Regions from separate parts of the Homo sapiens genome. Here region 1 is linked to region 2. A link means that fine-mapping ties the variant in region 2 to the expression of a gene that starts in the linked region. Tissue or cell type: whole blood. Region 2 holds a variant in brackets; the other region holds the start of a gene. All regions are shown on one strand. Distances are between the middles of the regions.

Region 1 (8,129 bases), 88 kb before region 2:
TCCACACTGCAATAGAATGATAGAACATGTTAAAATAAAAAGAAAAATCTCAACAGATAGTAGAAAGTCAAGAGCATGGAGGAGTAAAATAAATACATCTTCAGAATTTATTAAAACAATGTCAGAGATGAAATGGGCAGGATTCCATGGTTTGTTGTATTATTTAAAAAAAAAAAAAAAACCGCCCAAGAGGAATGAGATGATCTGAAAAAATGCAACTCTGATTGAGTAATCCCAAATGGTTTCAGTAAGGATGGCAAGGGGGCTGTACTCGGAGAACTCAGTGTGTTGGTTGGGGAAGGGCTGAGATGAGCTCTTGAGTAGACAGGTACAAAGGAAAGAGAGGAGGCAGAGAACATTAGAGGGTGACATACACCTTGGAGAGTCATTGCTGTTGTTTGGAGCCTCCCAGGCTGTTGTACTTTGTGATGGTAGCCTTGGGAAACCAATAGAGTATGCCTTCCTCTCCCCTTCACATAATCCTCACCATTTGGTGAGGGAGACCTTGATAAGCCAACTGTAACCCCACACACATTCTTTGGCCAACAATATCACTTGAGAAGACCAAGTCTTCACAGCTGTGTCATGTGCCGGTGTCAGGATGTGGCACCAGGGATGCCTTTGCACAGCCTTTTCACGTTGGCTTAGGCAGACTTTCCCAGGCTGGAGTGCAGTGGGGTAATTATAGCTTGCTGCAACTTTGACCTCCTCGGCTCAAGCCATCCTCCTGCTTCAGCCTCCCAAATAACTGGGACTACAAGCGTGTGCTACCACGTCCAGCTAAGTTTTAAAATTTTTTGTAGAGATAGCTTGCTATATTGTCCAGGCTGGTCTCAAACTCCTGGCTTCAAACAGTCCTCCCAACTCGGCCTCCCAAAGTGCTGGGATTACAGGAATGAGACACCATGCCCGGCCCCATGTCTTTTTTTAACAGAGTTTTAAACCTGGAAAAATGTATACACAATGGTGTCTGGAATTAAGCAGGTACTTAACAGTTATCCCTGTGGATAAACTGAAAAAGTACAGGACGTGAAAAAGGAAAATTCAATAGATTAATTTTTATCGAGTAGTCAAATAAAAAGCATGCCGATGAATGGGACCATGAGAACTTGGAAGGCGGATTCTATTTTCATGATGTGGGGGATCTGTCAAGTGCCCAATTCTAGATACAATTTATCTTAATAATTGAGATGAAGGTATAGAAAGCACATAGAACAAATTTGTAAATAGACTGACACATGGAAAGATAGCAAATAATATCAGAAAAAAATCAGAGAAATGTCTTGTTGGCTAATGCATCTGATTTTCATTTTGGGAGAGTATGACTTCCAGTCGTGCAAGTGCCATGAATCTATTAATAACAGACAGCAGAACAAGGATGCCAGCGAAGCTGGAAGGAGAGTCAACTACATTGCTAAGTTCTAAGGAGATGAAAAGGGAAAGAATTTCATTTTCAAAATGCAAAACAGGAAGACAGGCTGGTAAGAAGTTGTGTGTACATTTAACAGAGAAGTATACGTGAAACAAAGGAGGCTGGAGAAACCCACCACGAGGGATTGTGATGCTATTATTAGAGTACAGGTAAGTTTAACCAAACCATTTAGGGTGCCAATGATCATAATACATATTTTACAAAGGAAAAACCTAGTGGCTTAAAACAACATACATTTATTACCTGACAGGTCAGGAAGTTGAACGTGGCTTAGCTGGGTCCTCTGGCTTAGGGGCTCTCACAAGGCTGCAGTCAAAGTCTTGACTGGGTCTGTGGACTTATGAAGGCTCGCCTGGGGAAGGATCCACTTCTGTGTTCACTTACATGGTTATTAGCAAAATTCAGTTGCTCATGGGCTGCTGGTCTGAGGGCCTCAGATCCTCACTGGCTGTTGGCTGGACATATCCTTGCTACATTGGCCTTTTCACATTGCAGTTCATGGCATGGCAGCTGGCTTCTCTTAAAGCAGGCAAGCAAGAGAGGAAGAGGAAACAAGCAAGTCAGGAGCCATAATCTTTTTGACATCTTCTCGTTTTTGGCATATTCTGTTAGAAGAAAGTCCTCAGGTCTAGCCCAGACTCAAGAGGAGGGAATTACACAAGAGCGTGAGCACCAGGAAGTGGGATCACTAGATGCCATCTTGGAAACTGGCTACTACATGGGGTATAAGCAGGATTAGACTTTGTCAAAAGCAGAAATGCTTCACGGATAAATGTTTGTATTCCTACATTAAGGAAGAGGTACAGATGGTTCCTGACTTATGACTTATGATTTCCTGACTTTATGATGGTGTGAAAGAGATATGCATTCAGTAGAAGCTGTACTTTGAGTTTTGAATTTTGATCTTTTCCCGGGCTAGCAATACGCAATATGGTATTCTCTCCTGGTGCAAGGGAGCCATAGCTCCCAGTCAGCCACACAATCATGACAGTAAATAACTAGTACTGTGTTGCCAGATGATTTGGTCCAACTGTAGGCTAATATAAGTGTTCTGAGCACATCTTAGGGTAGGCTAGGCTAAGCTATAATGTTTGATAGGTTAGGTATAGTAGATGCATTTTTGACTTACGATATTTTCAATTTATGATGGGTTTATGTGGATGTAATCCCATTGTACATTGAGTGACAGATTAAAAAAATAAGAAAGGTCTTTAAAAATGGAAAGAGCAATCTATGGAAAGAATGTGATGAAGGGGATACCAGGCTGGAAAAGAAAAACCAAGAACCTAAGAGAAAAATGAGAAAACTATTATATAAGGAAGGTGTGTGCCCATAAACTAGAGCTTCTATTTAAGCATTAAAATAATCTCAAAAGCTGGGCGTGGTGGCTCATGCCTTAAATCTCAGCACTTTGAGAGACTCAGGAGAGAGGATTGCTTGAGCCCAGGAGTTTGAGGCCAGCCCAGGCAACAAAGTGAGATCTTGCCTCTACAAAAAATTTAAAAATTAGCCGGGTGTGGTGGTGCACATCTGTGGTCCAAGCTACACAGGAGGCTGAGGCAGGAGAACTGTTTGAGCCCAGGAGGTGGAGGCTGCAGTGAACTGAGATCGTGCCACTGCACTCTAGCCTGGGTAACTGAGTGAGACTGTCTCAAAAAAAAAAAAAAAAAAAAAAAAATCTCAAAAGACCCCAGAAGATAGGACCAGACAAATGCAATAGTTTATATGATAAACTGCTGCTTTAAAGACAACATAGAGTTCAAAGACATTTGTCTCCACCCGCCAAAAAATACTTGCCAAGGAAACAACACAATAGCTAATACCTGAATGTGCCATTGTAAGAAACTTCTAGAGCTAACTGGCAAAGACCTGCTTTTATATTTAAGATAGGTAAACTATATTTTTGGAATTAAAAAGGAGGAAGAAGAATCACAGTGTTCGGGGGAATTCCTTTAGAACAGGCCATCTCTTCCCTATTCTAGGAGGCAGGCCTGGTGCTCTGGCCCTGGCTCACCTTTCTGGCCTTTCCCACCCCTCCCTGCCAAGCACCTCTGCTGCAGCCACACTGGCCTCCCCAGCAATCACGTGAATACCAGCTTCCCCCGAAATCTCATTTCCTTTAGGAAGAACTTCCCTGATCAGCACGTAAAATAGCATCGATCTTGACGCATCCTGTTTTCCTGCTTTTATTTTTCTTTATAGCAATTTCCACTTTCTGAATTTAAATGTTTATTTCTTTGTTTATTGCCTGACTCCTCTGAGATAAAAGCTCTATGAATTCAAGGACTGGGCTCACTTCTGTAGGACCTGGAAAAGCATGCCATTGACTCTTATCAAGCAGATGAAAGAAAAACATACAATAAGTGAAGTCCATAAAAAATAGAAGAACCCAACAGAAAATGGGCGAAAAAGGTGAAGAACAATGACAATTTCCTAGAGCTGCACTAATATAAATGTATGTGCATGAGGAATATTTGTATTTTTGTATAATATGTAATCCATTAAAAAAATTCCGAGAGATTCAAATGAACTAAAGTACTCGAAAATGTTTAAGCCCCCCGCGCAACAACTCTCGCGCCCCCTGTCGGCGCGCTGGTAAATTTCTGAGGATTCTCAGCAAGAGGACTGAACTCACCCTCCCTCTTTTACAAAATGTATTCTTGTCGCTATTTCATTGGCTGTACCTTTCAGACGCCCCTTTCACATTAGTCAAGCCTCCAGTCCATCACTTCCGGACCCAAGCCCTCTATTGGTCAGCTGTAGGCGACAGCAGACAGCGGGCCGCGCTCAAGCAGGAGGAGTTCCTCGGTGACGTCACAGACACTCCCCGGCTACATTCCAAGGCGTGGGCGGAGACTTCCCGCGGCCTCTGCCTTTGGGGGCGGGACAAAGCCGAGAATGAGACTTCTGATTGGGTCTGCTAGGCAAGGCGGATATCCAATTGGTCAAGCCTTGGAGGGAGGTGGGGCCGCAGCTGGGTCCTGGAGCAGAGCCGAGGAGCCCTGGGGTCCCTCAAAGTTTGTGTCTGGAGCCGTAGCGGCAAGTGGGCTTGCGGCTAAGGGATTTTCCTGGGATGAGAGCGGGTCTTCTGCCTTCATTTTGGATGCACATCCCGCTTTAGCCCCGGCAGCCTTTGGTCCGGCTCGTGTCCCTGGGGATTCTCGGATCTCCGAGGACACCGGACGGGAGCGCTTGGCCATCCTCTCTCCGGCAGAGGAGCAGACGTTTGCTTTCCAAGTGCAAAACTACAGACACGCGCGCGCACACACGCAAGCACACGCGGAGAGAGAGGAACCTTGCCGGTCCGAGGCAGCTCTGCGCGTCCCCTCCTGCGCTTAGCATCCTCGGCCCAGCGCGGCCCGCACCGCCATGGAGGTGCTGGAGAGCGGGGAGCAGGGCGTGCTGCAGTGGGACCGCAAGCTGAGCGAGCTGTCAGAGCCCGGGGACGGCGAGGCCCTCATGTACCACACGGTGAGGACCCGGCGGGCGGGGCAGGAGGGCTTTCAAAGCGGGCAAGTGTTGTCACGCGAGGAGCAGCTGGAGTCCTGGGACCCGGGAAGGCAGGGTTTGGGGCAGGGCATGGTCAGAATCAAGAGGTCCTGGGCGAGGTGTACTTTAATGTCTGAGCAGATGAAGGCGGGCAGCTGGCCCCTTTACATTTCTCATGAGAGTAATGCCACTTTGTATTCCTTTAACAATTCATGCTTTTTTCCCTGAGGCTTTTTCCATCTGTAATATCATTTGCTGTTGTTAACAGTACTGTAATGCGGGAGAGGGAGTGTGTGTTTTGAGAATAACATGCCTCCGCCTAGTTTGCTATTGATTTTTTTTTGAGGTTTTCAAAAACTGGACAAGATTAAGTAGCATTTCCTTTTCATCTGTCTCGTATTCTCTCTCCCTCTCTCCCTCCCTTCCTCTTCTTTCATATTTATATTTTAAAAAGTACACGTGTGTGTGTGTGTGTGTGTGTGTGTGTGTGTGTGTGTGTGTGTTGAAAGGGCTCCTCTACGTTAGGGAGAAAGGCGGCTTTATTTGCTTTCTTAAACTGTACGACCAAGAAGTCTCCTTCCTCCCTCTTCGGAGGAAAAACCAGCAGAGGAGTATGGAAAATCTGAGACAGTTGCATATTTAAGAAAGGCTCTGGGGAAGGTGGGACAGCTCACCAGTTGCTTGTTCAGTCTTATACTAATGCCTCAGAGATCTCTTGGGGGATTAAGCTGTCCCAGAGCACGCACATTTCTTTTAAAGTTTTTAATGTCAAGTTTTTGGTATTAAGTTTGCAAAATGAAATTTTGTTTTCAATAGCCAGCACTGATCATAGGACTTTATGCAAGATCTCTTTGTTTGATTCTTATCCATGCAGACGTTTGTAATGGGGGTGGGGCTGGGGTGAGGGGGGACACTAATGAGAAAACCACTGGAGGCTTGGCTGCTTCCCCTTCACGCTTTTTTAATGGGGTCAGTACCAAGATATTTGAAACTTTCGCAAAATGGCCTGCAGGCTCCACCTCTTTGGCCTTTGACTCTGGCTGACGTTATTTTGAGACAAGGAATGAGGGCCTCCCTGCTGATTCCCACCGAAGTATTTGTGGTGGCTGAGAGTGGCTTGTTTAAAAAAAATGCAGAGTGCAGGGCTGAGAGGGAGTGGTAGTTCATGCTGGGGCAAAAGCCAGATGTTCAGTGTGATCTTCTGGGCTTTGCTTGCTGAGCTTGTCATGGGGACACTATGTGGGCAGCACGGAGGTTGGGGTACCAGATGTGCTTCCTGTCCTCAGTAAAGAACTTGGAGTATGTTGTTCCTCAAATATCTTTTGATGAATGGGTGCTCCAGGAGTTTCTACTGACAGGCTACATTTTATCCATATGCAGAGGGGCAGCCCTTCTCTTTTGTTCTTGAAGTATTCTTTCGCTGTGACAGTGTCTCATCCAGCAGCTGCAATGCCACAGCTAGGGGGTTGTCTTTCAGCTGGTGGGATGAATTACGCACAGGCATCTACCTTGCTGTTCTTTGGCCCTGTAGCTTGCATTTGTGAGTTCACAGGGAAAGGTGCGAGATGCTACCCGTGACTGTGGCATTCACTCTGGGAAGAACTGCTTGGACTGGCTCTAACTAACACCTTATGCACACTTTCAGGGAGTAGAGGCCTTACATTTGCTTTGATATTAACAGCCCAGTTTTTCTGTCATTGTGATAAAGCAGGAATGTGTGATTATTTTTCTTTTATTTCTATTTTTAAAAAATGCTTATTATGTCCTCCACTTAGGTACATGTCTGTTGTGAACAGCTCATTCCTGTAAAATGCTGCTCATCATTGCTGCAAGTCAGTGCAACAAACTGTGCATATGAATTACTGTTGAAAGAGGTATTGGTTTAGCAGCACAAATGATTGGGTTATATTTCTCTCAAACTAAGGGACGTTTGGGAGAGGTGGGGAGATAATTTTCCCATCTGTTTCCTGAACTCTGTTAGATATCCAGGGGCAGAGCTGTTTGTTACTCTAGCTGAATCTTTATGTAGAAAAAGGATGGCCTGATTATTCATTCAGTCAGAGAGATATTTGTTCTTTCGATTAATATTTGTGGAATATATAAAGCACTTGGAAACATGAGTGAACAGAAGCAGACAAAATCCCTGACTTCTAGAAGCTTATATTCGTGTGTGTGTGTGTGTGTGTGTGTGTGTGTGTGTGTGTGTAGGGGAACATAAACAATAAACATTATAAAGAAGTGATTATGTTGGATGAAATAAGTGTTATGGAAAACGTATAAGTAGAACAAGGTGAGGGGGATAGAGAATACAAGGTGGAAGAAGAGCAAACTATGGGATTGAACTGAGTGATCAGAGCAAGCTTCCCATAGAAAATGGATCTGAACAAAAATTGGAAGGAGGTAAGAGTGTTAGCTCAGCAGGATGAAGAACTAGAGCAAAGGCCTAAGGTAGGTGTGCATTTTCATGAGACTGTGTTAATATCATGTATTTCAGATTACTCATTTTGGTGAGTTATTTGTCTTATAAACTCTGGGTGCTTCTGAGACACCAGTGCCTGTTTTTGGAATGATTTCATAAAACTTTCCAAGTTGAAGAGAGCCTGAGGGGAGGGTGAGGTTCAAATACGAGTTGTGAGGGTGGTAAGAGATGATGACAGCTACCATCTATTGAGTGTTTATCATCCGAAAGGCAGGGCTGACCACATGGCCTGCCACCCATGCAGTGCCACGGGGTCCACACTTGGTTTGATGCTGTGCTGTCACCATCTTGAAAATCTTAATTCTTTTTGAACTGGGGACCTTACATTTTCATTTTGCACTGGGTTTCACAAATTACGTAGCTGGTCCTGCTGAAAGACATTGTGTCTAGTGCTTTACAAATATTATGCCATTTAACCCTTGTAATGACCCAGTGAAATGAGCCATTTTTATTACTTTTATTTTACATATAAGAAAAATGAGGCTTCGTGAGTTTAAGCCACTTGGCTCAGTTCCCACAGCTATTTAGTGATAGAACCAGGATTCAAACCCATGTTTGCCTGCCTGCAAGTACTTGCCTATCAGGCTGTCTGAGTGAAGAATCCTGACTTAAAGAGAAGGAACTGAATAAGAGGTTGGGAGAGAGTGATTGGAATATAGGAACTGCTGAGCCTGAAAGCAGCTAATGTTTAAATGAGGCTGACAGTGGCAGCCACCAAACCTTCCTAGT
Region 2 (8,129 bases):
TCACAATTTCCTGGTAATTGTGTGCGACCTTTTTCTCAGGGATGCTTCCTTACCGTCCATTTCAGCCTGTACTGAGGCTATATTTCATCCTACCGTCTTTCTTCCAGCCTTTGCCAGGGATAAATATTACTCAGTGTGGGCAGGCTTTAAGTGTTGACTTCAAAAAGCAAAAGCATGGCTGTTCACGGTGGCTCACACCTGTAATCCCAGCACTTTGGGAGGCCGATCACCTGAGGTCAGGAGTTCAAGACCAGCCTGGTCAACATGACAAAACCCCGTCTCTACTAAAAATATAAAAATTAGCTGGGCGTCGTGGCGTGTACCTGTAATTCCAGCTACTCAGGAGGCTGAGGCAGGAGAATCGCTTGAATCCGGGAGGCGGAGTTTGCAGCGAGCCGAGATGGTGCCACTGCACTCCAGCCTGGGTGACAGAGCAAGAATGTCTCAAAACAAAACAAAAAGCAAAAGCATCACCATGTCATTGCCGAATGGAAAAAATGGGATCTATGCGGTCTCTGTCTCTCCAGCCCTTCCCTAACTGTCCTAAGCGGGTGTTCTTTGCAGCGGACATTGTCTTCTAGCTCCTAAGCTCCTTTGGGGAGAGTCAACGGAATCTTTTGGCTCGTGGTCCAGTTGCTCCATCTCTGGGCTGAGCTGGGGCACGGTCTGAGTCCAGTACAGAGTGGTCTCCCTCCTCTGGCCGCCATCAGAGAGCCCTTTGTTCCCCCGCCCTCCCCTTCCACCAGGATGTGGCGCACACCCCATGAAGGATGGAAATCCCCGTCACACCATAGCACTCAGCAGCCCCACTCTAAAAGCAAAACATCTTCCACCACCTGCCCATCCTGTCTTTATTTCACCTTGGGAAATAAATTGAGGCTGGGATAATTCATCAATTATAAACTGGATTTAAGGGGGAAATCATTCCTCAAATATGAACCTAACATTTTTGTGCTTTAAAGAAGTCACTTATGAAACATAATTTTAATAATCGTAGATTTTAGTTCTTAGTTTCTGTGTCTACCCTTCCCTTCTTCTTAGCGGTTCTAAATGATTGTACCTTTTCATAAGAAAACTGGAGTCACATTCTTGAATGTAAAATAAATTTATAATGTGAACGACTTTGCTCTCCTGACAGTCATGGGTCACTAAGTATGTGAAATGTGGTGTATGTGTGTAAGCATTTTGAGAAAGCAAAGGAGCGTGTCTTTGCTTTATTTTAGCCTCATTTTAGTAAAACTGGTATCAGCTAAGGAACGTTGCCTTTGGCTTGCTTTGTCTTGTTCTGTGGCTGTTTCCAACCCTCTGGTCGTTTCCTTTCCTTCCCTCCTCCCGGCTTTTCCAGGCAGTGCTGAGCGCTAGCTCCAAAGTAACTTGTTAAGAAATACAAATTCTTATTCTTTTAGACTCTGAGAAGAATGTGCATTAAGTGGCAGAGGCACTCTGTCTGTTCCGTCTTGTCTCTCGGTTGTTAGCTATCTCCAGGCCTGGTGATAATCAGGAAAGACAAGACCCAGACTCACCAAGATGCAGCTGTTTTCTCAGGAAGAGTATTTTGTCCATTTCAGCAAAGGGCAGATGGTTATTACAAACCAAAGTCTCCCAAAGGGCTAAGCAGAGTCTCTGAAAGTCTAAGTTAGGTTTAAGGCTAGGTGGGATCACAGTGAAAACAGAAGAGGACAAAAACAAACAAAAAAATGGAGTGAGAAGAAAAAATATCAAAAAACCAAATAACTTTCCTTTGGAGAGAAGGAGAGAGAGACCTACTCACCATGTTCTCTCATCTTCTCCCGTTGGTTACCAACCATTTGCTTGCTTCTCTCTCTCTCTCTGTCGCTCTCGCTGTCACTCGCTCTCGCTCTCGCTCTCACTCTCACTCTCACTCTTGCTTTCTCTCGCTCCCCCTCCCCCTCCCTTCCCTTTCTCTCTCTTTCTTTCTTGACAGGGTCTCACTCTGTTGCCCAGGCTCTGGAGTACAATGATGTGATCACAGCTCACTGAAGCCTCGACTTCCTGGTTTAAGCAATCCTCCTGCCTCAGCCTCCCAAGTAGCTGGGACCACAGATGCTCACCACTGCACCTAGCTAGTTAAAAATTTTTTTTTGTAGAGACAGAGTCTTGCATTGTAGCCCAGGTTGGTGTTGAACTCATGGGCTCAAGCAATTCTCTTGCCTTGGCATCCCAAAGTGCTGGGATTACTTGCGTGAGCCACTGTGCCCGGCTGCTTCTTTCTTTCATGTTTTTAAATGTGCTTATTTATCTATTTTTGAATAGATAATACATTTACATGATTTGACAACCAAAAAGAGTAGCTCATTACATATTCAAAATCCTCCCTCCTATTCTATTCCCCATCAACCCAGGTTTCTTCCTGCCTTTCTCAGGAAGCCAAGTTTCTTTCTTTTCTATGGATTCCTTCCAGAGTTTCTTTAGGCATACTCACATGCAAGCGAATACAAGTATAGATTCTTTCTTTGCTGTTCATATCTATCAATCTTTTCCCTCACATATTTCATTTTCTTTTATTCTACTTTCAATCATCCTTCACTGAGCTTTTTTGGGGAGAAAGACTAGTGGTCGCTTGTTTTGCTTATGCCTGATGCCCTGAACAAGTTCACATGTGTGCTTGTCTTTTTTCCTGCAGATGAGGTGGAAAGTGAGAAATGGTACCTGTCTACAGACTTCCCTTCAACATCCATCAAGACAGAGCCAGTTACAGACGAACCACCCCCAGGACTCGTTCCGTCTGTCACTCTGACCATCACAGCCATCTCCACCCCGTTGGAAAAGGAGGAACCTCCTCTGGAAATGAACACTGGGGTATGCTCAATTTTCGTCTGTTTAAACAGGTTGGATTAAAAGATACAGATAGATCCTCATTCTCCAATAAGGTGTTTAATCTTTTTGGAGTTAGTGGCTGTGTACATTTAAGGACATGCAACTTCATATGTGTGTATATACATATGTATACATTTAATAAGGGTATGTTGATTTGGTGCCAACTTCCTTTAAAGCCATTGTTCGGAAAAAATTAGTAGCTAAGCTGATTTCATTCTCTTTTTGATTACTGTTACAAAATAAAAAACACAGAAAATATCTATGGTAAAAAAAATTTCTCTATGGCACTGATTTTTAAGCAGTGGAAAGGGAGTGATTGAAGTGGTGATGTAATCCATGGCTTACAGTGCATGGCTACTGGGAATGTGAGCTCCTGTGTAATATTTTACTTTCCTAGTGAGATGCTGAGTTGTCCTTACTCAAGTCAGGAATGTCCCACGTATTGATTCATATAATAATATGAATAATATTAACAATATTAATAACATTATAATAATAGTAATAGTAATAATAACACCTATTATTGTGTTACCCGTGGAAAGCATAAGAAATCAGGATTTTTTCCTTACTAGATTCCATGCCTACCGCAAGTAGAATTTAATTCTACTCTACCTTCTTTCTGGATATTTCCAGTGTCTGGCCATGGACCAGCATTGTATTTGTACATCTTCTTGCAAGTGTTGGAAGCCTGTCTTAGCTTCCCTTAAGTTCAAAGCTTCAGGTTATAAACAACAACTTCATTAACATTCCTTAAGTCAGATTTCTTGTGAGCAAGATAGAATGTCTATCTGCAGCCGGGCACGGTGGCTCATGCCTATAATCCCAGCACTTTGGGAGGCGGAAGCTGCAGTGAGCCGAGATCGAGGCACTGCACTCCAGCTTGGGCAACAGAGCAAGACTCTGTCTCAAGAAATAAAAAAAAAGAAAGAAAGAAAAAAAGATGTAGTGTCTACCTGTTCAGAATATGGTAACACAGAATCAGTAGACTCATTAAAGTGTCACTGCTTACTCCCTTGTCAGTCCATCTGTGTAGATGATGAAGGGTTGTAGACAGAGGCCTCTGCAAGTGTGCTAGGATTCCTTTCTCAGTAGCTACCTGAGTCTCTTTATTAGGCTGGGCTCTCTGGTCTATATTAGTCTCCTTGCTCCACAGAATTTTAGTTACTTTATTTATTACTTTTTTTTTTGA[A/G]ACAGAAGTCTCATTCTGTCACCCAAGCTGGAGTGCAGTGGCATGATGTCAGCCCACTGCAACCTCCGCCTCCCGGGTTCAGTGATTCTTGTGCCTCAGCCTCCCAGGTAGCTGGGATTACAGGCACCAGCCACCACGCCTGGCTAATTTTTGTATTTTTAGTAGAGATGGGGTTTTACCATGTTGGCCACGCTGGTCTCGAACTCCTGACCTCAAGTGACCCGCCCACCTCAGCGTCCCAAAGTGTTGGGATTACAGGCGTGAGCCACATGCCCGGCCTAGTTGAATTATTGTAAAGTATGTAACTAGCAAAGCTCAGAGGCATGGCCTTGCTCCTGTGTATGGGCCAGATAACTTTTCTCCTTTCCCTACCAGGATTTTCGTGATTAGATACCATCAGTCATTAGGAAGCCTTAATAATAACATCATTAATATTAATTATTAATAATTATATTAATTGTATTATAACATTATTAATTATTAATATTAATAAAGTTATATATAAGAGAAAGGATGTGGCTTGGTGCACAGTCCCTACCCCAGGGCAAGCTGGTGGAGGCCTTTGACTCTTTAAAATTTAGTTCCCATTTTCCATGGTGATTGACTCGATTTAAGTGCATTGTGGCTATATGTAATTTACAGGCTGCTTTACGTTGCAGGCAGGGAAAACTCCCAGGCTGGTGTGAGGCTGAACTGGGATAAGAGACCCCCTGGCCCCTCCTTATTCTGCTAAGGTCACCACCTCTTAGAAGGTCTCTTATTTTCTTTCAGTGATCAAATGCACAGTTACGCTCTACAACTAAATTCTGTAGTCTTGGGAATCCTCACCAGTATCAACTATAAGTTGCTTTTTAAAGCCCCCAAAGTGGAGTGAGGATAGGGGGAGTGGAAGCAGTGTTTGGTTCTTACTTTACCCAAACTATGTATAAAGAATAAAGTTAGCAGAATGATGCCACAAAAAAAAAAGTACCAGAATATTTTGTAATAAAATGCCTTTATAGTACTATAAAAACATAGAAAAGAATATTGATATAGTTTTGGGCTTGAGCATTTGGCTTTCAACTTTAGAGTTCTGAGTGTTTTTCTTTTTCTTTTTTTTTCTTTTTTCTTTTTTTTTTTTTTTGAGATAGGGTCTCACTCTGTTACCTAGGCTGGAGTGCAATGGTATGATCACAGCTCGCTGCAGCCTCAAATTCCTGGGTTCAAGTGATTCTCCTGCCTCAGCCTCCCAAGTAGCTGGGACTGCAGGTGCACGCCATCACAACTGGCTAATTTTTGTATTTTTTTGGGGAGACGTTGTCTCACTATGTTACCCAGGGTGGTCTCAAGGAAGTTCTGAAGGTCCTGTCAGCTGTAATGCCAAGTTTGGCAATGAGAAAAAGGTTAAGAACTAAAATGACTCCCTGTCAGGGAAGTTGCCTACACTCAGCTATTCTCCAGGATAGGCAGGGCTGTCCCGAGAGGAAGACACAGGTGACAAATAGCTCTCCTGCATGTGTCTTCAAGGCTGTGATTGGTTTTTAAAAATTGTGTTTGAAATTCTTCCTCCAGGTTGATTCCTCGTGCCAGACCATTATTCCTAAAATTAAGCTGGAGCCTCATGAAGTGGATCAGTTTCTAAACTTCTCTCCTAAAGAAGGTCTGTCTGCCCTCCCTGTGTCCCTTTGGGTTATGGATATGGTCTCTGGGTCTACAGAGAGGGAATATGGCGAGAGAGCTGGGATGAGTTTGTACCACAGATGTTGTAGCTGGCTTTATGAAATAGCTCTGTTCTTAAAAAATAAAAATTTTGCTTCCAAATAAAAATTTTGCAAGCTAACTATTATTTTCCCATATATGCACGTGATTAAATTTCAGCTAAGTGTTACCATACTTTTACTTCTAACCAGGGTGATATTTTTCAAAACTTTTATGGACTGCTACTACAAACACTATCGAACAAGAGAACTGCAGCCCTTATTCATCCAGGCGTGAACCCTACGTAGCCCCACAAATCAACAACCATCTACAAAAGCACCTTGCTTATTTCAAACAACTCTAGTTTCAACTCTTTGTGAAGTAAATTCACAATTAATTATGTGGCCAATTCATTGTTTGTAAACATTGACTTTGAATGACAACTATTGCAAGGAGCCCCCTCTCTATTTGGTCATGTTCATGGTTCACAATTGTGCATCTTTTTGGGCTTCTTGACATCCATCCATTTAGAATTAACACATCCTTGAGGTGATCATACTTTTTTTTTTTTTTTTTTGAGACAGAGTCTCACTCTGTTACCAGGCTGGAGTGCAATGGCACCATCTCGGCTCACTGCAACCTCTGCCTCCCAGGTTCAAGCGATTCTTGTGCCTCAGCCTCCTGAGAAGCTGCAATTACAGGCGTGCACCACCACACCCAGCTAATTTTGGTATTTTTAGTAGAGACGAGGTTTTGCCACATTGGTCAGGCTGGTCTTGAACTCTCAGCCTTAGGCAATCCGCCTGCTTCGGCCTCCTGAAGTCCTGGGATTACAGGCATAAGCCACCACGCCTGGCCAAGGTTGTTATATTTCTATATTTATCTTTCTCTATGTCAGTTTCTTTCTGAGTTTCTCCCTCTTTGTTCTCCTATGAAGCCCATAGTTAGGAATCCTGGATGCAGACCCCTGAGCCTCATGAGGTCTAATGAAGCTCTCTCTGCCTTGCGTATGCAGATTCTCCGGCATACATCCTGCTCTTCTCACTTCTGTGCCTTCACTCATGCCATCACTTCCCTTTTCATTCATACTTTTTATTTATTTATTTTTTGTGTGTGAAACAGGGTCTTACTCTGTTGCTCAGGCTGGAGTGTAGTAGTGCCATCATGGCTCATGGCAACCTCAACCTCATGGGTTCAAGCGATTCTCCCACCTCAGCCTCCCAAGTAGCGGGGACTGCAGACATGCACCACCACGCCCAGCTAAATTTTGTATTTTTTGTAGAGATAGGGTTTCACCATGTTGCCCAGGCTGGTCTGAAACTCCTGAGCTCAAGTGATCCTCCCATCTTGGCCTCCCAAAGTGTTAGGATTAAAGGCATGTGCCACCTCACCCGGTCCCATTCATACTTTCAGTACAAATTTCAAAGTACAGTTCACTACTGTGGTCAACAAATAAGAAATTGGCTTATACAGTTGTCACCGAAAAGGTATATTTGCTACGGTATATAAATGTGAGGATGTTTACATATGAGCACTTCTCATGAAAATATCGTCTGTCTTCATTCCATTAGAAACTAACTCAGGATTTGGTTTGTAACAATGTAATCAGGGCTGGCCCTTTATTTGCCTTTATTATCAATAAAGAAAGGATTAAATTTTAAAAGTTAATAATACTTAGTGAAATAATACTTAGTAAATAATACTTATTTACTTAGTAAAAGTTAATACTTAGAATCCATATTGAGACACTATGTCTTTGCACTGAGTGACAGACAGTAGTGCCTTTCAGCTTTATGTACTGCTTCAAAGTAATTGCTTTCGTTTGTATAACACCAGTTATTACTATCAAATGCATCTTACTCTTTTAATTTATGCTGTGATGTGGTTCAGAAGTGTCATCACCATAACAATGAATCCCATAGTGGCTTCTGAATCCAGGGTTATTGGAGGAGAAATGTTTCAAGAATGAAGTTAAGGACAGCCCTTCCTCATTATCCTGGATAAACTGAGATAAGGAAATTCAATATCCTTGACTGCATCAGTTTCTAGGCACAGTAGCTTGTTGTCCCCAGACCTTGCAGTAACCCAAAAGCAGCATTTCAAATGATATTTAGAAATCTGATCCTGAGGTGCCTCTGGCCAGCTCTGTAGCTCTTAATAGATAGGAAAGACAAGATTTTACTTGCTTCACTTGCTTCAAATTCTCTTTCTGTCTTTTGTGGGGTGCCCTCTGCTTGGACGGGAGAACGGTATTAGAATAATTTGGCCCCTACCAAGTGAAAGGGACAGGGTGGCTCTAGGTACTCCTGGCTAGTTCTTGGGAATGTAACAGCACAAAGCCCCTATTAGGTTCGTCTGCTTCCCGTTTTTTTGTTTGTTTGTTTTTTTGTTTTTAAACCATGAAGTGCCATAATATTCATGGCAT

Evidence for each region. PIP is the estimated chance that this variant, and not a neighbour inherited with it, causes the effect.
Region 1: it holds the start of CREB3L2, and the variant in region 2 is fine-mapped to the expression of CREB3L2 in whole blood (TOPMed, PIP 0.98).

What each region holds. Positions count from the first base shown.
Region 1 is chr7:137,998,378-138,006,506 of GRCh38, reverse strand. It overlaps CREB3L2 (cAMP responsive element binding protein 3 like 2), which reads left to right and starts at 4,421. Exons shown (of 12, transcript NM_194071.4): 1 at 4,421-4,903. The coding sequence starts at 4,802. LOC124901752 (a long non-coding RNA gene) reads right to left here and starts at 4,200. Exons shown (of 3, transcript XR_007060551.1): 1 at 4,117-4,200; 2 at 1,676-1,951. RefSeq lists enhancers at 4,122-4,171, 4,402-4,471, 4,562-4,651, 4,200-4,797, 4,742-4,881 and 2 more.
Region 2 is chr7:137,910,528-137,918,656 of GRCh38, reverse strand. CREB3L2 (cAMP responsive element binding protein 3 like 2) reads left to right here. Exons shown (of 12, transcript NM_194071.4): 3 at 2,645-2,820; 4 at 5,579-5,666. Among named protein-coding and RNA genes, the nearest start is that of CREB3L2-AS1, 39 kb to the left of the region's middle. RefSeq lists an enhancer at 1,356-1,405. The variant A/G (reference allele first, on the strand shown) is at 4,028.